2 linked regions of the Homo sapiens genome follow. The protein of the gene in region 2 interacts with the protein of the main gene of each other region in a pairwise test. Each region holds a gene or a part of one and is shown on either strand. Other genes may lie near its edges.

Region 1 (7,761 bases), on a different chromosome or scaffold from region 2:
TCAAACAAGTCCCTGCAGCCTGGACACCAAGGAAGGGCTAGAGGTGGTACCAGCTGACCCCCTCCGGGCTTGTACCAGGAGCCGGGTGCACCTCCAGGGTGTTCTCATCCCACCCCACTCTACTCCTTACAGATCTCCTGTGCCCAGTCTCATGGGCCCCGCCGGGCATCCAGGGAAAGGGATTTCTCTCCAGGCCTGGGGTCCATATCCCCAAGGCCCTGCCACTCTGAACAGGCACACTAAACCACGCCAGGGCTCCCAGAAACAGCCCTAATAAGGTCATGTTGGTGGCAGGTGTCTGAACTCACTCCTCTCCCCAAAAATCCTGACTTCCCATTCACCATTCCACCTCCCTTCAGCCAAGGCCCAGAGAGGGCCCAGAGAGGGGCAGTCACTAGCCAGAAGTCACACAGCTGAGCCCCAAACGCAAACCTGGATCACAGATGCTGATTCTGAAGACACCCCCCCACCCCTTCGTGCCAAGCACCTGCAGGCAAAGACCAGGTGAAGTCCAGCCAGGCCCCACGCAGGTGGGGATTCACTTCCCCGAGGGTACTGGACCCATTTTCGACACGAGGTGAAGCCCCTGTATCTCACACACAGACGGACCTGGGACCCCTAAAAAGTGGAGGGTGATTGCCGGCTGTCGTGCACACGGCTTCTCAATTCTCACCCTCCAAGGAAAGCCCGCAAATGGGAAATACCCCCGAGGTACCCCAGGGACCCCAACATTCTCCAACCTGTAAAAAAAGAACTGGGGATGCGTCATGGTCCTGCTCTGTTGACAGCAGGGAAACTGAGGCTCAGGGCCAGGTGAAAACCCAGCCCCAGCCCCTCCTTCACCCCTCACTTCTCCCGTGCCCAGGTTTCCCAGAGATTTAAAAATAAGAAGGAAAAAAAAAAAAAGATGAAGAAGAGTCACCAGGATGCTCCAGTCCCTGCACCCCCACCTGTCTCTCCGACCTAGAGCTCAACCAGCGGCCTTTCAATGCAACCGTTTGGGGGGCCATGTGGACTCCCCCATTCCCACGGGAATCTTTCTAGAAATGGGTGCTTTGGGTGTACCCAGGGGTGGGGGCGTGTGGGAAAAGCCCACCTATCACCTCTGGACTCCAGATATTGACTTATGGGGGCCGCATGGGAGCCCCTCTGCCCTCCTAGGCCACATGGAGGAGTTAGATTTTTCAGGCCCAATTTTGTGTGTGTGTGTGTGTGTGTGTGTGTGTGTGTGTGATGGTTGGTTTTGAAAAGAGATGGGGAATGGGGAGGGGTTTCTTTCCTCCCTCAAGATAACCAGCTGGAGGGTCTAGCTGAAGTGACAGGCCTGGGCCCCATCTCACCAGACCCTCCCTAGGGCCTTCTTGAACCCCTTCATTCATTCATTCATTCATTCATTCATTCATTCAATTCATTCATTCAATAAACATGCATTCATGCTTACCGGGCACGCAGCGCTGGGGAAAAAGTGGGTGTAAAATAGGTCATGGGCCCCGGTCCTTCCCCAAGGCCTCTCCAGGGTCTTCCTGGAGGATGGGAGGGGGAGGGCCGGGGGTGTCCAGCACAAGGCCTTTGAAGTGGCACCCCCAGTCCCCAACACCTGACCGGAAGGCTGTCAAAGCCACCCCAATTCAGACGCTGGGCCCATGATGGGAACCAAGGGCTGGGGATACAATTGCCGGACACCCCCACCCGGGATGCCATCGGAGGGAGAATCCAGTGGGAGGGAGGCAGACAGGCCTGAGGCCGCCCACGCCTCCCTCCTCCTCCCTGTCCACCCCAGAATTTGGGCTCTGCCCAGATGGACACGTCCAAGCTCATTGTCTTGGGCCTGAGACCCCAACACATTGCTAAGAGGCTCGGCCAGTTTCAACTTGAGCCCAAGGTGGAGGCGGGGGAGGGGGAGGGCAGAGAAATGGAGGAGAGAATGCTGATCCACGCGGAGGTGGTGGGGCCAGGGGGTGGGCAGCGACGGGAGCCTCTCCGCCACCCGAGGCAGGCGAGGCGGGCGCGTCCCCCCGAGCCGGGCGCCCCCAACCCGTCTTCCTTTGTAGTTACCGATTAGCCTGGGGTCCTGGGCATCCGTGTCCCCCGCGGCCGGACCTGCCCCGCCGGCCTGGCTTTGTGAAAATAACCAAAGCAATGGAGTCCGCAGGTGCAAACTTCCCCGACGGGGCCTGGGGAGGCTGAATGAATGGGGGTGGGGGGGCAGGGAGGGGTGCCGGCGTTCCCGAGGCTCCCCTGGCAAACGGGCAGGAAAGAGTGGGGTGAGGGAGGGAGGAAGGGGTGGGGGTCTGGGGGATGGAAGGGTGAGGGAGGGAGGGAGGGAGAGAGAGGGTGCTGTGGGGGGAAGGATGAGAGGTCGAGGGAGATGGGAGAGAAGAGAAAGGGAGAGAGAGAGGGAGAGAGAGAGGGAGAGAGAGAGGAGATGCCGGAAGGTGGGGAGGGAGGGAGAGGGGGCGGAGGAGGGGAGGGGGCCCGCTCGGATCTGTCAGCTGCACCCCCAGAGAGGGGAGGAGGGGTGGGTGGGAGGGAGGGGGTAAGAACCGATGCTCCGGCAGAGGCAGGCAGAGGAGGGAGGTGAGCAGAGGAGGGATGGTGATGGGGGAGAGAAGATGCCGGAAGGTGGGGTGGGAGGCGGAGGGAGGGGGAGAGGGGGGAGGGGGCCGGGCGCCCACCTTTGTGCATCCCCGTGTAGGGGTCTTTGAGCACCGTGAGCTCGTAGATGCGGCCGAACTGCTCGAAGAGCGGCTTGAGGTCCTTCTCGTCCAGGTGCCGCGGGATCTGGCCCACGAAGAGTTTGATGGCGTCCAGGTCCTTCATGCCGTCGGGCTGCCCCCCGGGGGGCTCGGGCCCGCTGCTGCCCACGGGCGAGGGCCGCGGCTGCAGGAGCTGCTGCTGCTGCCGGCGCGCCTCGCTCTCCGTCAGGCGGGCCATGGCGGGCGCGGGACCGAGCCGGCGGCGGCGGCGGCGGGCGGCGGGCGGACTCGCAGCTGGAGCGGCGGCCGCGCCTCCCGCCTCCCTCCCGGGCCCCCGCGCCCTCCTCCCGCCCGCGCCCGCCCCGGCATCGGGACCACAAAGGCGGCTCCGCAGCGGCCCCTGGCGGCCGCGCCGCGCGGGGCAGCCGGCGCCTCCCCGCATCCCCGGGCCGCGGGGGGAAACTGAGGCCGGAAGGCCCCGGGCCCCGCCTACGGGTGGGCGAGGGCGGAGCTGCGGGCGGGACGGGCCTTAGCCGGCTTCCCAGGGGTCCCCGCCGGCTCCCGCGGAGGGCATCGGCCGGAAGAATGTCAAAAGTTGCTGGGATAATGTAGGGGGCTTGTCGTTGAAAGCGCCCGTGATCCTTAAAGTAGGTAACTCATCAATAATATTAATAACACTAATAATATGGCTGGGCGCGGTGGCTCACGCCTGTCATCTCAGCACTTTGGGAGGCCGAGGTGGGTGGATCACTTGAGGTCAGGAGTTCGAGACCAGACTGGCTAACACGGTGAAACCCCGTCTCTACTAAAGAATACAAAAATTAGCTGGGCTCGGTGGCGGGGGGTGCCTGTAATCCCAGCTACTCGGGAGGCTGAGGCAGGATAATCACTTGAACCCAGGAGGCGGAGGTTGCAGTGAGCCAAGATTGTGCCATTGTACTCCAGCCTGGGCAACAAGAGCAAAACTCCGTCTTGGTAAAAAAAAAAAAAAAAAACACCTAATAATAACAACACTAATAATAATTAATCAAGAGCAAGACAAAGTGCTCCCACTAATCACGACAGCACAGGAGAAATGGTAAAAGTATCTTCCAGTTCTATAGGGTGCTTACACATAGAAAGTGTCCTTGGCCCTTTAAGTATGTAACTCATCAATAATGTCATCAACAAGGAGGGAGACTGGCTCGCACTGATAATGACAGGATAGGAGAAATACTGAAGTATCTCCCAGCTCTAAAGTGCCCGTGATCCTTTACGTATGAAACTCATCAATAATATTAATAAAAATAATAATACGTGCTGGCCGTGGTGGCTCACACCTGTAATCCCAGCACTTTGAGAAGCAGAGTCAGGAGGACCACTTGAGCCCAGGAGTTGGAGACCAGCCTGAGCAACATAGTGAGACGCCATTGCTGTAAAAAATAAGAAAACAGGCCAGGCACGATGGCTCACACCTGTAATCCCAGCACTTTGGGAGGCTGAGGCAGGTGGATCACCTGAGATCAGGAGTTCGAGACCAGCCTGATCAACATGGAGAAAACTCTGTCTCTACTAAAAACACAAAAATTAGCCAGGCATGGTTGTGCATGCCTGTAATCCCAGCTACTCAGGAGGCTGAGGCAGGAAAATCGCTTGAACCCGGGAGGCGGAGATTGCAGTGAGCCGAGATTGCGCCATTGCACTCCAGCCTGGGCAACAAGAGTGAAACTCTGTTTGAGAAAAAAAAAAAAAAAAATCAGCCAGGAGTGGTTGGTGTGCACCGTTGGTCCCAGCTACTCGGAGGCTGCGGTGGGAGCATCGGTTGATCCCTGGGATATTAAAGCTGCAGTGAACCAGGATCGCACCACTGCCTCTGGTCTAGGCGACAGAATGAAATCTTGTCTCAAAAAAAAAAAAAAAAAAAACACTTCCCAAAGATGTCCCATAATTAAAGCCCAAGTCCTTCTTGAGGCCCACAAGGCTCTGCGTGTCCTGTTCTGCCTTGTCCCCACCTTCCCCTGCTCCCTCTCTCCCCCTCCTCACTGCTGCAGCTACACAGGCCTCCTCGCTGTTCCTCTCACTTGTCAGGTGCGGTCCTGCCTCAGGGCCTTTGCACGGGCTGTACCCTTTGTCTGGGATGTGCTCTCCCCAGATGATGTGTGGCTCATTCCTTAATTCCCCATCACTTTCCCCATCTACCTTATCTAAAACCGCTCAGTCACCATTATCTCCTTTCTCAGCCTTCTTTTTCCCTCCACAGAGTTACACCCATTTAAAATTTTATTTTCATTTTTATTTTTATTTTTTTCGAGATGGAGTCTCTCTCTGTCGCCCAGGCTGAAGTGCAATGGTGTGATCTTGGCTTACTGCAACCTCCACCTACCAGGTTCAAATGATTCTCCTGCCTCAGCCACCTGAGTAGCTGGGATTACAGTTGCACCCCACCACACCCAAATAGTGTAAAATTTTATTAACGTACTTATTTATTTATTTATTTATTATTGAGACAGAGTCTCGCTGTGTCACCCAGGCTGGAGTGCAGTGGCATTATCTCGGCTCACTGCAACCTCTGCCTCCCGGGTTCAAGCAATTCTCCTGTCTCAGTCTCCAGTGTAGCTGGGATTACAGGCATGTGCCACCACACCTGGCTAATTTTTGTATTTTTAGTAGAGATGGGTTTCACCATGTTGGCCAGGCTGGTGTCGAACTCCTGACCTTAGGTGATCTGCCCACCTCAGCCTCCCAAAGTGCTGGGATTACAGGCATGAGCTACTGCGCCCAGCCTAAAATTTAATTTTTAATTCTTATTTTATTTATTTTTTGAGACAGGCTCTTGCTGTCGCCCAGGCTGGAGTGCAGTGGTGCAATCTCGGCTCACTGCAACTTCCACCTCCTGGGTTCAAGTGATTCTCATGCCTCAGCCTCCTGAGTAGCTGGGATTACAGGCTCCCACCACCACACCTGGCTAATTTACAATTTTATTTATTTATTTATTTATAAGGCAGGGTATCGCTCTGTCACCCAGGCTGGAGTGCAGTGGCATGATCATAGCTTGCTGCAGCCTTGACCTCTTGGGCTCAAGCGATCCTCCTGCCTCAGCCTCCAGAGTAGCTGGGACCACAGATGTCCATGCCACCATGCCTGGCTAATTTTTAAATTTTTTGTAGAAATGGAGTCTTGCTATGTTGTCCAGGCTGTACGCAAACTTCTGGGCTCAAGCAATCCTCCCGCCTCAGCCTCTCAAAGTGCTGGGATGACAAGTGTGAGCCACCATGCCTGGCTTTAGAGGACATTTTGTGCTCCATCCAGCCAATGGAACACGACTCAGCCATGAAAAAAAAAATGAGGCTCTGACCCAAGCCATACCTTGAGCACATCATGCTTGGTGAAAGATGTCAAACACAGAAGACCACACAGCGTGTGACGCCATTTGTATGAAATGTCCACCCGCGTTAGAGGGGGAACTGAGGCCCAGAGAGCTCCAGTGGCTGGTGCAAGACCACACGGTAAGAGAGCTGGGATGTAAACCCAGGAAGCCAGACTCTGGAGCACACACACTTCCCACCATCCCATACCATCTCCCCACACATCAGGCAGCTGAGCCCCAGTTTCCTTATTTGCCAAGCAGGACTAAAGAGAGAGGAGAGGGACCGGGCACGGTGACTCACACCTGTAATCCCAGCACTTGGGGAGGCCAAGGCTGGCAGATGATCTGAGGTCAGGAGTTCGAGACCATCCTGGCCAGCGTGGCAAAACCCCATCTCTACTAAAAATACACAATTAGCCGGGCGTGGTGGCATGCACCTGTAATCCCAGCTACTTGGGAGGCTGAGGCAGAATCGCCTGAACCTGGGAGGTGGAGGTTGCAGTGAGCCGAGATCGCACCACTGCACGCCAGCCTGAACGACCAAGTGAGACGCCATCTCAAAAAAAAAAAAAGAAAAAGAAAAAGAGGATATGGTGAAGGCCCTGGTCTGGTGTGGACTCATGAACTAAAATGTGGGCTTAGCAGAGTGTCTGGGAGCTTAGCTCAGTGAATGGCTATTCATCATTGCTGTTACTGGCAGCCTCCTGGCCACCCCCAGATGGAACAGAACATCAGAACTGGGTGACGAGCAGAGCTGGGCAAGGGGTCAGGGGTTCTCCCACAACATCCTGCCACTCGGCCCAGCACAGACGCAGGTGCTTAGACTCAGCTGAGGCTTGGCCGGGCACAGCGTGGCACTGGGGCTGGTGGAGTCGGCCAGGAGACATAGGCTTCGTCTCCATGGAGACTCAAGCAGGATGCTCAGAGCCCCGTGAGCCTCTGGTGTTCTGGGAGAGTCCTTAATAAGAATTTTAAAAATCACGCCTGGCCGGGCGCAGTGGCTCACGCCTGTAATCCCAGCACTTTGGGAAGCCAAGGCAAGTGGATCACTTGAGGTCAGGAGTTCGAGACCAGCCTGGCCAACATGGTGAAACCCCGTGTCTAAAATTTGGCCGGGTGTGGTGGCTCATACCTGTAATCCTAGCACCTTGGGAGGCCGAGGCAGGCACATCATGAGGGCAAGAGATTGAGACCATCTTGGCCAACATGGCAAAACCCCATCCCTACTGAAATTACAAAAAGTTGGGCGTGGTGGTGTGTGCCAGTAGTCCCAGCTACTCAGGAGGCTGAGGCAGGAGAATTGCTTGAACCCGGGAGGCGGAGTTTGCAGTGAGCCAAGATCGCGCCACCGCACTCCAGCCTGGGCAACAGAGCGAGACTCCGTCTCAAAAAAAAAAGAAAAATCATGCCTGTAATCCCAGCACTTTGGGAGGCCGAGCTGGGAGGACTGCTTGAGCCCGGGAGTTCCACACTAGCCTGAGCTGTAACATAGCAAGACTCCATCTCTACAAAAAATACAAAAATTAGCCGGGTGTGGTGGCAGGCACCTGTGGTTCCAGCTACTTGGGAGGCTGAGGTGGGAGGATCGCTTCAGCCCAGGGAGGTCCAGGCTACAGTAAGCCAAGACTGTACCATCGCACTCCACCCTGGGCAACAAGAGCAAAACTCTGTCTCAAAAGAAAACAAAATCAAAAGAGAAACTCACAAACTCCTATGAGC
Region 2 (7,001 bases):
TCTCTCCCGCATAAGATGGAAACAACAACTTGAGGTGGCAACTGAGCAATTAGTTACTGATCATTTCTATGACAATTCTCTGAAGGCTCCAAAGGCCTCCTATCTTGAAACCCAGGTCATCTCTGCATTGCTATTATTGAAAATCTTTATCCAGTTGCTCTTTGAAGCCACTACTTGGAGCAGTAATGTTGGGACCAACACACACCTTTTATGATATTAAACCAGAAAATCAGCATCATCATTAAGACACAGAGACTGTTCCCAAGAGGGAAAGAAAATATATCTCCTAATCAGGCCAGTAGCTGAAACACTGCAATATAACCTGTAGCTTGGAATCACGGTGACAAGCACTTAAAGCTGCATTTAATGTCTTCATTGTAACTTCATCAAAGTTTGGCACACAAATTCTACCTTTATTCTAAGCATACCCTTTTTCTAAGTCTCATGAATCCCAAACTTAAACCCTCTTCAGAGTTTTTTTTCCCCAGAATTATGTATCTTCTGGGATTACCTAATCACAGTTTCACTTGAGCCTGGGTCCAATTTTAAGAAAATCTCCCTCCCTTCACGCTTATATCCACTCCCCTGACCTTTTCTGAAAAATCAAGAGACTTAAGATGTGGAGGCGGAAACTTACTGAAATAGCCAAATGCTTTTCTATAGCAATGAAAGCTCAGTCATTTGGGACATGATTTAATCTTGAGCTTCAGAGCAGAATTTGAAAAGCAAATTAAATCCTTTTGTAAGAAAATAATTTCATCTTAACCCAATCTTTTAAAAAATCATTACCTAGAACAGTAAACCAAATAGTCTAATATGAATGTTCTTATCATGTGAGGAAAAAAATGAGTAGTCTTTAACACTAGTTAGAGCAAGTCTATAGAACACGTGTCCAGAAGCATGTAGTTCCCTTGCTTTCTGTCTTTATTTCATCCTCAGTATCACTACTGCTTTGGGCAGAATTCTTTCAAAATTTAATTTAAAGCAGCACAGTGGGGGAATCAAAAATAAATATGTTGACTATTAAAAATATAGAGATTGGTAAAAAAAATGATGATGATGAATTCTCAATCCTACAAACTTCTGTAAACGCAAAAACCAAGAGGAAGATAATAAATCTTTAATAATTGATTGATATTCAGAATATCTTGATCTAATTAATTTAAAGCATGGCCTACCTAGCCAGGTAAAGGACGGCACAGCTAGGCTTATTTCTTCATTTGACACATACTGAAAGTTAATAATGAAGCTAGGTGCTTGGGAAATTTCTGAGACCCCATCCTTCCAGCATGCAATAATTAAGTCAAAGAGGCCAACAGTGTGTATATCAGAACAAGGTGAAGGGTAAAGCAGACCAGAAAAAAATATTAAAAACCAAACCATCTCCTCCTTTCTTTTTTTCCTTCTGTTTTCCTTTCAGACTGGGTTGATTTTAGTTCCCTCCAAGACTTCAAGTCATTGATCTAACAAAGATCATTGTTTAAATTAATAGCAACACAAACTCCCACAAAGTGATCTCTTCTTATGCTCTAGGTTGAGTACTTTGGTTTATCTAGAGGTTGTGTGTTACGCCGCTGACCACCTTTCACCTTTTAGAATCGGCACCTGCAATTCTCAAATGCTCTGGATCTAATTGCCAACCTTTTGAGCTCAAAACTTCGGCAACTCCTTCATGTTGGGTTGTCAACCCTTTGCTTTCCCTCCCCTGAGAAATTCGTATGACCTTGCCTTAAAACTTTTAAAGAATACATTTTAAAATCTATATTCCTGCTAAAGAAAACAGTGAGTCATTAAAATACCACCAGATAAAAAAAAAAGGTTTGATTTTTAGTTCAGGTCGGTAATGGCCTGTAAGTACCTTGAAGATGGTATCTTCCTATCACTTATGCCTTGGGACAGTACCCAAGAGTGGCTGAACTTTTACCTAATTAAAAAATGAGTCATTTATTTGAAAAATTCCACTTCCATTTATTTTATCTGATTTCTTAAATATCCGGTCAACTGCTAATTTGTCAGATGTCATAATTCGTCAGTCCTACCCTTTTCTACAGGCTGAATTTTTAATTTGAAACAACTACACCTCTACCGAGTGTTACTTTCAGACGTAAATTACTGCAGGAAGACCCCCCTCTGCCTTGGTTAACACTTAAATGAGATGCCTCCTGTCCAGGACGCTTCCTCAGTCTCACTGTAATAATCTGAGTCTAAAGTCACCTGTGCTTCTGGGCGGTCCAATCATGTATTTTCAAGAGTGAAAAAAAAAAATCAGTTTCTTTTATGGGAAAAGATTCATCACTACAGGAAACACGATGGGACTGACTGTATATGATTATCTGCCTTCCCAGAGGTTGACCCTTTTAAAACCGTTTTATAAACCCTTTATTTCCCACTAAATATACCAAGAGACAGAAGATGAGTGATAGCATGAGGGATAAGAGCTAAAGAGAGAAGAATAAGAAAAAAATATACACTTCAAAAATTGGGACCCAAATGTAAGATTAAGGGACAATAGTTAGAAGGACTACCAAAAACCACCTTACCTTTCCTTGTTAAGTTTTTGGAGCCGCCCACTTCAGAAATTAACACCATTCACAGCCCAGGAGCAACTTAACACAGCTAGGAAGTCACCTACAACATCTTCTCGTCCGCCTTCTTTTTAATGTAAAACCAAAATAAGGAGTGTCCAGCGACTCCCCACCGCGCCGCTTAAAGCAACAGAGCGTTTTAGGCTTAACTCCCAGGCTCTGGGAATTCCAGTGGGTCAGAATTGCTTAACCTTGGAGACTTGCAGAGAGAAAGTCTCCAGGAGGACCGCTCCCCAAACCCTGGTTTCTCTCTATCCCAAGCTGCACATTCCACAGTGGAAAGCGGGAGCGGCGACCCGAAGGCAGCGAAGTTCTCTCGGGCTCAGCTCCCGAGGCCGGGAGCGCGCGGCGGTTCCACCCGCAGAGCGGCGCCGCGTCCCGGCTGCGTGGGGCGCTGCGCACGGGAGCGCTCAGCGTCTAGTCTGCGGGCCCTTCCCGGTTCCCTCCCTCTCTCCTCCCGCCGCCCGCCCCCTGCCGAGGCCATCCGCCTCACAGTAGCAAGGTTGTCTCTCGTCTACTCCCTTCCCTTAAACTCACCAAACCAGATTTTTACTCCCAACACCGGCAACTTCCCGTAAATCTGCCCTGAAATTTTATCCTGCTGGCTGAGCCTCCCCTGGCTAAAGGCCAGTGCCACATTCCTGTTGTTTTTTAGGAGCGCAGATACCTTTGCTGAAGGTTCAAAGAAAATCGGCCTTGATGGCAGAGATTGGGGGACTTGACCAGACGGACTTCTCTCCCCGCCCCAAAAGTCACATGCCTTTCAGACACCCAGAAGTGGCACCTGCTCCACCTGGGGGCATCTGTCCGAGTCAGACGCTCGGCCCCCTTCGGGCTGCTCCGAGAAACCCAGCCAGAACCACGTTGGAGAAATTAGGAACCTGCTGCTGAATTTCAAGCCGATCGGAACCGCCCCGCTCCCCTTCTTCCCCCCATAAACAAGTCGCTGGACGAGGTGGGATCTCTGCGACCCCCGCGTGCCCGGGGAGAGCTCCCGGGGCGAGCTCCCGGGGCGTCCTTACCTGGGGCCGAGCATGGCTTGGCCGCGCGCAGGCAGGAGCGTCACGCGGACGGGGCCCTGACCTTTGCCGGGGCCTTCGCAGCAGGGCCTGGGGCCTGGGCGCTGCTCGTTCAGAAGTGGCTCATTTTAGTGCGCTCTGACCTAGAGTTACGGAGGGTTTCTAGAAAGGGAACAAAAAAACACTGCATTTAGAAACAGCAGCCAAGCCCTCGCTTCACCTTGCCTGCTCTCTGGGGAGTTGGCTCGAACCCCCACCCCATCCCAATTCCCAAGAAACCCAGATGTCCGCAATCCGCGCCCCACCCCCTCCGCCTTACCTGTTTATACAAGAGTTAAGGAGCCTCCCGCATTTCAGTGGAGCGCTAAGCCTGTTTGTAGGCGCGGAATGGGCCAACAGGAATCGAATTCTGTGACTAAACAAACTAGAAGAGGAAGCAGGCACCACCAGGAACCTAAAACAGAGTTGTGATTTCGGGTTGCAGTGTCATTCAGCTGAGGGGAAAGAAAAAAATACCGGGCTACTTTAGTGAAAGAATGTTCCAAAAATGGTTCTTTGCTGGTTGAGTTAACACATGCAAAGAGCTTAGAACGGTGCCTAGCACACAGTGTTAGCTGCCGTTATTGTTGTTGTTATTCTTCTTATTATTATTTACATTATGGCTTTTTTCTGAAGAAGAGTGTGTGGTCAGAGTTAGACATGGGCTGTAGCACCAGCATTGCCACTCACCAGCTGTGAGGCCATGAGCAAGATATTTAATCTCTCCCAGCCTCAGTTTCTGGAAGATTCTAACGATGGGATTTTTACAAACAGTTTATATTCATTGCTGACAGTCTTGAATACAATGGGAAATAAAGTCCCTGTAAAGGGTAGCCAACTGAATTTCATCTCACTTAAAAGTTACAAGATTGACAACAGAAATGGAGATAAATTTGCCTGCATTCCATGAAGCTCACTAACGGGAAGGAAATTCAGGGCCCAGCAATCACCCATCTGCTATGCTTAATTCTCATTTGTATTTTGGCACTTGACCTGGTGTCTTACCCTGGGATAGTTACTTATCCCAGACTGGGCCGGACAAATAATGACCCTTGCCGTTTGAAAAGCAGTATGAAAGAGAGGGAAATGATTTTGAAACTCCTCATAAATATTAAAAAGTGATTATTGAAGGCTAAAATGTTATCAGTGCCTCCACCCTTTATCCTCCATTTAACTTCACATTTAAAGAAAGAAATCATAATCCCTTTCCATTAGTGAGGCCCTTTCTACTTTATGGAGCACTTTCACCCTTCTTACTTTATGTGATCCTTACAAAATGATCCTATGAGCTATTTTGTCCCCATTTTGCAGATGAAGACACTGAGATCACACAGGTTAAGTGTAAGTCCAAGGTGGTGAGGCCAGGACTGGTTCTCAGTTCTAGTTAATTTTTTTTTAAGTTGAAAAATCAAACTGGATTTATTAAAATATATATAAATAACCCTCATTTTTCTTTATTTCATCAGTATTGGAAAGTTAAGTGAAAATTAATTAAAAAGTAGTAGTCCTAAGAGAGAGAAACAAAGGCTGAAGGGGTATCAAGAAAACCATAAATTTAAAAAGCAGCATTTGCCACCTTTGGGAAAAATGATTCCTTAAAACCAGCAAAGCATTCTGGAACATTTTAAATCCTTCTGATCTTTTATCTTCTCATGAGGCAAAATTTAACCCAGACAAATTCAACATTTCCTGTGTTTTAGGTTCATTCTTTGTCGATACCAGCCAGCATGTACTGTGAACAGCAGGCAGTGGGAACTCTCTTAGCTAAGTTCCCTCACCAGACCTAAGGGTTGATGCTGCCAGGCACAAACAACGGCTCCACCCCCTTAAGACAACTAAAAAACCCAGCTCCATATTAGCCTGAAATTTTCTTTTCTTTTCCAGAAGTATCTGGATTATGGCCTCAAAAAAGGCTCGCTGTCACAGACTGTCTGAGCTGAAGGATTCTAGAGGGGACATTCTCGCTGGGCACGGTGGCTCACGCCTGTAATCCCCACACTTTGGGAGGTCGAGGCAGGCAGATAACCTGAGGTCAGGAGTTCCAGATGAGCCTGGCCAACGTGGCGAAACCCCGTCTCTACTAAAAATACAAAAATTGGCTGGGCATGGTGGCAGGCACCTGTAATTCTAGCCACTCGGGAGGCTGAGGCGGGAGAATGGCTTGAACCCGGGAGGTGAAGTTTGCAGGGAGCCGAGATCGCGCCACTGCACTCCGGCCTGGGCGAAAGAGCAAGACTCCGTCTCAAAAAAAAAAATAAACACATAAATAAATTTAAAAAATGATAAAAATAAAAGAAATTTGAAAGTGTGGAGGTCAGTGACTCCAGGTGAACTGGAACTGGAGTCAGGGAAAACTCCTGCTTGAGGAGGCTCAGGTTCCACTTCAGGAAGTGAGTCCTCATCTCAAAGAGGGTCAGTTACCCTTTTTCAGATGTTGCCTGCTCCTTCTTCAGTTTTGCCCACTGACACCTATGAAATGGGTATATCCTTTCTTTCTTTTTTTGCACTCCATATCCGCTGGAGAAATGGGTATAATTCTTGTTCCTATTTCTCACTGCCCTCCCCGGGAACATGACAAAAATAAAACAGATTTTTCTAAGTGGCAGGCTATAGCAAAACAAATGTGAACTTTTATTATTTCTTTTTTGTGGCTAACCTTGGCGCCTGTTTTATTATTATTATAATTATTTTAATTCTTAGGCCCACTCCATTTTCCTGGGGCATTTTAGTTTTCTAGACCCTTGTCTTTTACTTTCTGTTTTCTTCTTTTCCTTCTGCCTATGAGGCAATGTTCCGGAGTGAGTGCAAACAGCATGAAAATTAGTTTCCAATAGATTTGAGTTTGAATCTCAATTTCTTCTCTGAGCTATGTGATGTTGGACAAATTGCTTAATCGCTTTGAGTTTTAGTGTCTTCATTTATAAATTAATAACAGCTATCTTTCTGGATTTCTTTTTGTTTGTTTTTTCCGAGATGGAGTCTCACTCTATTGCCCAGGCAGGAGTGCAATGGCACAATCTCGGTTCACTGCAACCTCTGCCTCCCAGGTTCAAGTGATTCTCCTGCCTCAGTCTCCCGAGTAGCTGGGATTACAGGCACGCAGCACCACGCCCAGCTAATTTTTGTATTTTTTTGTTAGTAGAGAGGGGGTTTCACCATGTTGGTCAGGCTGGTCTTGAACTCCTGACCTCGTGATCCGCCTGCCTCAGCCTCCCAAAGTGCTGGGATTACAGGCGTGAGCCACCACGCCTGGCCTTTTTTTTTTTTTTTTTTTTTTTTTGTGACAGAGTCTCGCCCTTGTTGGCCAGGCTGGAGTGCAATGGTGCGATTTTGGCTAGCTCGAACCTCCACCTTCCAG

What was found. The genes of interacting proteins can lie anywhere in the genome.
Region 1: the proteins of RBM47 (region 2) and CELF5 interact in binary tests that used the Homo sapiens proteins (3 or more experiments, as listed by UniProt).

What each region holds. Positions count from the first base shown.
Region 1 is NC_000019.10:3,219,913-3,227,673, reverse strand, and holds the start of CELF5 (CUGBP Elav-like family member 5), read right to left. Parts: upstream 3,014-7,761; 5' UTR 2,935-3,013; coding exon 2,676-2,934; intron 2,397-2,675; exon of another isoform or gene 2,056-2,396; intron 1-2,055. UniProt on the Homo sapiens protein: RNA-binding protein implicated in the regulation of pre-mRNA alternative splicing. Mediates exon inclusion and/or exclusion in pre-mRNA that are subject to tissue-specific and developmentally regulated alternative splicing.
Region 2 is NC_000004.12:40,626,856-40,633,856, forward strand, and holds the start of RBM47 (RNA-binding protein 47), read right to left. Parts: upstream 3,010-7,001; 5' UTR 2,541-3,009; intron 1-2,540. UniProt on the Homo sapiens protein: Single-stranded RNA-binding protein that functions in a variety of RNA processes, including alternative splicing, RNA stabilization, and RNA editing. Functions as an enzyme-substrate adapter for the cytidine deaminase APOBEC1.